Linked DNA regions of Homo sapiens. The protein of the gene in region 1 purifies or fractionates together with the protein of each later gene. This does not show direct contact. Each region holds a gene or a part of one and is shown on either strand. Other genes may lie near its edges.

Region 1 (3,820 bases):
TATTAATTTATTCAACACAAATGTAGAGGATCTACTATGAATTGACACTGATCAACCACTGAATGGTTTTGACCAAAAAGTCCAGGCTGAGGTGGTCTCAGATAGAGATGAGAAACTTATTGCGAACTGGAGCAAAGGTGATTCTTTCTATGTTTTAGCAAAGAGGCTGGCAACATTTTGCCCCTGCCCTAGAGATCTGTGGAACTTTGAACTTGAGAGAGATGATTTAGGATATCTGGTGGAAGAAATTTCAAAGCAGCAAAGCATTCAAGAGATGACTTGGGTGCCCTTAAAAGCATTCTGTTTTATTAATTCACACAGATATGGCTTGGAATTAGAACTTATGTTGAAAAGGGAAGCAGAGCATACAAGTTTGGAAAATTTGCAACCCTGGCCATGCAATAGAAAAGCAAAACCCATTTTCTGGGGGAGAAATTGAAGCTGGCTGCAGAAATTTGAATAAGTAACAAGGAGCCAAATGTTAATTGCCAAGACAATGAGGAAAATGTCTTCAGGGCATGTCAGAGGTCTTCCCAGCAGCCCCTCCCATCAAGTGCCTGGAGGTCTAGGAGGAAAAAATGGTTTCATGGGCCAGCCCAGGGCCTTGCTACTTTGTAAGGTTTTGGGACTTGGTGACCTGCATCTCAGCTGTGGCTAAAAGGGGCCAACGTAGAGCTCAAGCCATTGCTTCAGAGGGTACAAGCCCCAAGCCGTGGCAGGTTATACATGATGTTGGGCCTGCGGGTACACAGAAGTCAAGAATTGAGGCCAAACCTTCCCAAGAAAGTCTGCCTAGATTTCAGAGGATGTATGGAAATGCCTGGATGTCCAGGAAGGAGTTCAATGCAGCAGTGGAGCCCTCATGGAGAACTTCTGCTCAGGCAGTGTGGAAGGGAAATGTGGGGTTGGAGCTCCCACACAGAGTCCCCACTGGGGCACTGCCTAGTGGAGTTGTGAGAAGAGGGCCACTGTCCTCCGGACACCAGAATGATAGATTCAATAGCTTGCACTGTGTGCCTGGAAAAGCCATGGGCACTCAATGCCAGCCATGAAGGCAGCCTGGAGGGGGACTGTACCCTGCAAAGCCAGAGGGGCAGAGTTGCCCAAGCCTGTGGGAGTCCACCTCTTGTTTCACAGTGACCTGATGTGAGACATGGCGTCAAAGAAGATTATTTTGGAGCTTTAAGATTTGGCTGCTCCACTGGATTCTGGACTTGCATGGGACCTGTAACTCCTTTCTTTTGGCCAATTTATCCCATTTGGAATAGGCTTATTTACCCAATGTCTTTGTATCTAGGCATCTTTATGTCTATAATTTCATTGTATCTAAGAAGTAACTAACTTGCTTTTTATTTTCCAGGCTCATAGGCAGAAGGGACTTGCCTTGTCTCAGATGAGACTTTGGACTTGGACTTTTGAGTTAATGCTGGAGTGAATTAAGACTTTGAGGGACTGTTGGAAGGGCATGATTGTGTTCTGAAATGTGAGGACATGAGATTTGGGAGGGGCCGGTGGTGGAATGCTATGGTTTGGCTGTGTCCCCACCCAAATCTCATCTTTAATTGTAGTTCCCATAATCCCCATGTGTCATGGAAGGGACCTGGGGAGGTAATTGAGTCATGCGGGCAGTTACCCTCATGCTATTCTTGTGATAGTGCCTGAGTTCTCACAAGATCTGATGGTTTCATTAGGGGCTTTTCCTCCTCTTTTCTCTACACTTCTCCTTGCTGCCTCCATGTGAATAATGATGTGTTTGCTTCCCCTTCTGCCGTGATTGTAAGTTTCCTGAGGCCTCCCCAGCCAATGCTGAACTGTGAGTCAATTACACCTCTTTCCTTTATAAATTGCCCAGTCTCAGATATGTCTTTATTAGCAGTTCGAGAATGGGCTAATACATGACATGCTTCCTGGAGATAGGGGGTGCAAAATAGAGCAGTGTTTCTGGAGGATTTAGCGGGAGGAGATGACTAGTACAGTAGTACAGTCTCAGCCCTGATGAGTTTCAGATGCTTGGACAATCTTACATTGTAGATATCTAATAGGCAGTTGGTGATCAGATATTGAGCTCAGAGGGATTGGGAGGTATTGATGACAGTTGAAGTTCTGAGGGTAGATGAACTACCTAGCATTTAAAAGTGCCGTACAGCTTGGGAAAGTGAGAGGTAGGAGCAGAACTTGAATCTCCTTCTTTTTTAATTCTCCTAACCTGGAACAGTCCACTTTGTTATCTACTTTCTAGAATTTACATGTCAGCACTATTGTTTCAGGCTTTACTCTCTGCACAGTGCTCATGTTGCTTCTGGACTGCCTGAGCTATAATGTCCAAGTTGGATGACCTTGGGGATAATCTAGCTCAACTCCTTAGATCAGGGGTCAACAAACTATAGCCTGCTGGCCAAATCTAGCCAACAAGCTAAGAATGATTTTTACATTTTTAAATTGTTAGGAAAATATCAAATGAAGAATAGTGTTTGGTGGTACAAGTATATGAAATTATAATGAAATTCAAATTTCAGCATCCAAAAATAAACCTTCATTGGAACACAGCCATGCCCACTCATTTGCTTATTGTGTATCGCTGCCTTTGTGATACAAAAGCAGAGTTGAATAGTTGTGACAGAGACCATATGGCCCCCAAAGCTTAAAAAATTCAGTATTTGGCCCTTTACAGAAAAGGTTTGCAGACTCCTGGCTCTGAACCCTAGGGTTACCATGGCAGTGCCTTGGTGAGGGGGAGAAAGGAGCAGAAAGGAGTGTGGATCTCTCACCTCTGGTCTAGAGCACCTGGGGCCTTTGCTTTATACATTGGATTGTTGCTTAAGATTTTGGAAAAAGGGGTTTTTCTCATCCTGCATTCCCTCTATCCCCCACACAAAATGTACTGGGCTGAGGTGTGGGAGAGTCAAAGGAAGATGTGGCTTATGTCTTCAAGCAGCTTAGTATTGAGTAGGGGGGAAATAAAGACAGGCTGGACTAAATGCTTTAGGAATGTATATAGAAGATAATGTAAGGAAATAGGGGAGCAAGAACGTGGTGGGTGAGGGGTTCAGGGTATTGTGTAGGGCTTCCAAGAGACAGTATTTAAATGTACTTTTGATTTTATTTTTTATTTTTATCTTCTAATTTTTATTTCAGGTTCAAGGAGTATGTGTGCCAGTTTGTTATATGGGCAAATTGTGTGTCATGGGGTTTGATGTATAGATTATTTCTTCACCTAGGTAATAAGCATATTACTCAATAGGTATTTTTTCAGTCCTCACCCTCCTCACATCCTTCACCCTCAAGTAGGCCTCAGTGTCTGTTGCTCCATTCTTTGTGTCCATGTGTACTCAATGTTTATCTCACACTTGTAAGTGAGAACATGCAGTACTTGGTTTTCTGTTTCTGTGTTAATTCGCTTAGGATAATGACCTCCAGCTCCATCCATGTTGCCGCAAAGGACATGTTCTCGCGTTTTTATGGCTGTGTAGTATTCCATGGTGTATATGTACCATATTTTCTTTATCCAATCCACTGTGACGGGCATCTAGGTTGATTTTATGTCTTCGCTATTGTGAATAGTGCTGTGACGAACATACATGTGCATATATCTTTATGGTAGAATGATTTATATTCCTTTGGCTATATACCCAGTAATGGGATTGCTAGGTGAAATGGTATCTCTGTTTTAAGTTCTTTGAGAAATCTCCAAACTGCTTTCCACAGTGGCTTAACTAGTTTACATTCCCACTAACAGTGTATAAGTGTTGCCTTTTCTCTGCAACCTCATCAGCCATTTGTTATTTTTTGACTTCTTAATAATAGGCATTCTGACTGGTGT
Region 2 (3,820 bases), on another chromosome or scaffold:
AGAATTGAGAGCTCATGACACTCTCTGTTTTCTTCCCTCTGATGTCAGCCTGCATTTGACCACATTTAGCCTGCAGTACACACCTCCTGTGGTGGCCTGTGTCTGCATTCACCTGGCTTGCAAGTGGTCCAATTGGGAGATCCCAGTCTCAACTGACGGGAAGCACTGGTGGGAGTATGTTGACGCCACTGTGACCTTGGAACTTTTAGATGGTAAGTTTTAGAGTAAGGGACCTTGAAAAGCACTTGCTGTTGATCTGTCACATAGCTGGCCAAAGGTGACTTGATTCAGATGAAAATAGTTAGTTAGTAGTTCAGGTTATTCTTGTTTCATTACTTCTGTTTCTCTCAGTCTTTCTTGAATGTTCTGTTTTACTTGTAGAACTGACACATGAGTTTCTACAGATTTTGGAGAAAACTCCCAACAGGCTCAAACGCATTTGGAATTGGAGGGTAAGAATCATTACTGTCAGCTTGTGGAACAAAATCAATTTCTTTTGACTGCACCAGTGAATATACCAGTATTGAATATGTACCCTAGGTTTGGAATTGCCCTTTTTATAGTTACACAGTAATCATGACTTCTACTTCATACCTTGGATACTGTTGTAAAAGTCAGTGTCTCTATGGGATAGCAGGATTTGCTTTTCATTGTGTAACTCCTGTGATATGATCATTTGAGCAGTAACACTGGTTCAGTATTTTCTGTGTGGAAACTGGTAGGGAAAAAACATGGCTTCTCGGAGTTAGAGTATTGGCTTCTGGTAGAGGCAAGATAGAGAATTACAAGGTTAGAGCCGGTATCACAGTTTTGTGTTTGACATTACCTACTTTTAAAATGGATTTTAGAATTTTGTTTTTATATAGGCTGTAGTCTGAAGTTGTATTTCAAATACTTGTCAAAGCCTTATTCAGGAATAATGGAATCATTCCTTTTTTTTCTGTCAGATATAAAACTTGTTTTAAAATGTTTCCATTGTTTTCTCCTAAATCCAGACAGAAAAAGTTAATTTCATTCTCCTGAGTTGAGTGAGTGGCAGAGAGTGAGTTTGCCTCTTAGAAGCCTGAGATTAGAAGTAGGCTTGAGAGGCCGGGCATGGTGGCTCATGCCTGTAGTCCCAGCACTTTGGGAGGCCAAGGCAGGCGGATCAACTGAGGTCAGGAGTTCGAGACCAGCCTGGCCAACATGGTGAAACCTCGTCTCTACTAAAAATACAAAAATTAGCCAGGCATGGTGATGCACACCTGTAGTTCCAGCTACTTGGGAGGCTGAGACAGGAGAATCGCTTGAACTCGGGACGTTAGGTTGCAGTGAGCCGAGATTGTGCCACTGCACTCCAGCCTGGATGACAAAGTGAGACTCTGTCTCAAACAAACAAACAAACAAAAAACAACAGTAACAACAAAAAAGAAGTAGGCTTGAGAGCACATCTTTTACTTTAGCATAAAACCTCACCAAAATTTCTAGAACTCAGTTATGGACTAACTATAATCATAAGCGAAGGCATGGATGTTCATGTATGAATTTTAGATAAGCATAGATTCTTTGTTGTTATTATTGCTTTGTAACGTTTGGATAGATTGCTGTGACTCTTAATTGAAGGTTTTAAAATCTTCTCTTGATGGTAATATTTATTGGATTACATGTTAGGATAGCCTCCTGCCTGTGGCCTATCCAGAACTTCCAGTGTTGCTGCAAGTACAATCTACTCATCTCAGTGTTTTTTTATTTAGTAAATTACCTAAGTAAAGAGATGCTATTTGCTTCATTGCAGGCATGCGAGGCTGCCAAGAAAACAAAAGCAGATGACCGAGGAACAGATGAAAAGACTTCAGAGCAGACAATCCTCAATATGATTTCCCAGAGCTCTTCAGACACAACCATTGCAGGTTTAATGAGCATGTCAACTTCTACCACAAGTGCAGTGCCTTCCCTGCCAGTCTCCGAAGAGTCATCCAGCAACTTAACCAGTGTGGAGATGTTGCCGGGCAAGCGTTGGCTGTCCTCCCAACCTTCTTTCAAACTAGAACCTACTCAGGGTCATCGGACTAGTGAGAATTTAGCACTTACAGGAGTTGATCATTCCTTACCACAGGATGGTTCAAATGCATTTATTTCCCAGAAGCAGAATAGTAAGAGTGTGCCATCAGCTAAAGTGTCACTGAAAGAATACCGCGCGAAGCATGCAGAAGAATTGGCTGCCCAGAAGAGGCAACTGGAGAACATGGAAGCCAATGTGAAGTCACAATATGCATATGCTGCCCAGAATCTCCTTTCTCATCATGATAGCCATTCTTCAGTCATTCTAAAAATGCCCATAGAGGGTTCAGAAAACCCCGAGCGGCCTTTTCTGGAAAAGGCTGACAAAACAGCTCTCAAAATGAGAATCCCAGTGGCAGGTGGAGATAAAGCTGCGTCTTCAAAACCAGAGGAGATAAAAATGCGCATAAAAGTCCATGCTGCAGCTGATAAGCACAATTCTGTAGAGGACAGTGTTACAAAGAGCCGAGAGCACAAAGAAAAGCACAAGACTCACCCATCTAATCATCATCATCATCATAATCACCACTCACACAAGCACTCTCATTCCCAACTTCCAGTTGGTACTGGGAACAAACGTCCTGGTGATCCAAAACATAGTAGCCAGACAAGCAACTTAGCACATAAAACCTATAGCTTGTCTAGTTCTTTTTCCTCTTCCAGTTCTACTCGTAAAAGGGGACCCTCTGAAGAGACTGGAGGGGCTGTGTTTGATCATCCAGCCAAGATTGCCAAGAGTACTAAATCCTCTTCCCTAAATTTCTCCTTCCCTTCACTTCCTACAATGGGTCAGATGCCTGGGCATAGCTCAGACACAAGTGGCCTTTCCTTTTCACAGCCCAGCTGTAAAACTCGTGTCCCTCATTCGAAACTGGATAAAGGGCCCACTGGGGCCAATGGTCACAACACGACCCAGACAATAGACTATCAAGACACTGTGAATATGCTTCACTCCCTGCTCAGTGCCCAGGGTGTTCAGCCCACTCAGCCCACTGCATTTGAATTTGTTCGTCCTTATAGTGACTATCTGAATCCTCGGTCTGGTGGAATCTCCTCGAGATCTGGCAATACAGACAAACCCCGGCCACCACCTCTGCCATCAGAACCTCCTCCACCACTTCCACCCCTTCCTAAGTAAAAAAAGAAAAAGAAGAGGAGAAAAAAACTTCTTTAAAAAAACACATAATTTTTCTTTTTTTTTTTTGGACTAAGAAAATTACTTATGAAATATGTCATCCTTGGACTAGGGAATAAATTGATATTGAGACATAGTTAGGAGGGTGGTAGAAGGCCTTGGCTATATATCTGCTGTCTCATGCATTTAACTATTTTCTTACAGTTTTTACTGGTATTAGAGAGGTGTTGAAGCTGTGAAGGATTAAGGACACATTCTGAATTCTTGGCCTCTCCACCATCTAATTAGGTTGATTGGAGTTGATATCTTCCCTCTTCTTGCCAGAGCTGAAAAATGGAGGGTTTCTTGTATCAGACAATTGTGGATCCTTTCGGTGTTTAATATATCAGAAGAGAGGAAGTATTTAAACGTCAAATCTTTTAATAGACTTAATAATTTAAAGAAAGTAAGTTATCTGTTTAGTTTTTTTATATAATTGGGAAGGGGATAGGGATTTTGCTGTGTGTATATGATACATAGCAGTAACTCCTGGTGGGTGGGATTGGAGGGTGGGAATGTGTGAGGGTGGGTGGGAGGCTAGGTTTTTGGCTAGGAGTTCTGAAATAGGCTCAGGCCACTTTTTTCAGACTTTTAAGTGTGTATGTA

Evidence for each region.
Region 2: the proteins of ARHGEF9 (region 1) and CCNT1 purify together in Homo sapiens (affinity purification with mass spectrometry, with the first as the bait; one large-scale study listed by BioGRID). This does not show direct contact.

Annotation. Positions count from the first base shown.
Region 1 is NC_000023.11:63,775,135-63,778,954, reverse strand, and holds part of ARHGEF9 (rho guanine nucleotide exchange factor 9), read left to right. Parts: intron 1-3,820. UniProt on the Homo sapiens protein: Acts as a guanine nucleotide exchange factor (GEF) for CDC42. Promotes formation of GPHN clusters.
Region 2 is NC_000012.12:48,692,391-48,696,210, reverse strand, and holds part of CCNT1 (cyclin-T1), read left to right. Parts: exon of another isoform or gene 1-48; coding exon 49-212; intron 213-381; coding exon 382-452; intron 453-1,774; coding exon 1,775-3,178; 3' UTR 3,179-3,820. UniProt on the Homo sapiens protein: Regulatory subunit of the cyclin-dependent kinase pair (CDK9/cyclin-T1) complex, also called positive transcription elongation factor B (P-TEFb), which facilitates the transition from abortive to productive elongation by phosphorylating the CTD (C-terminal domain) of the large subunit of RNA polymerase II (RNA Pol II).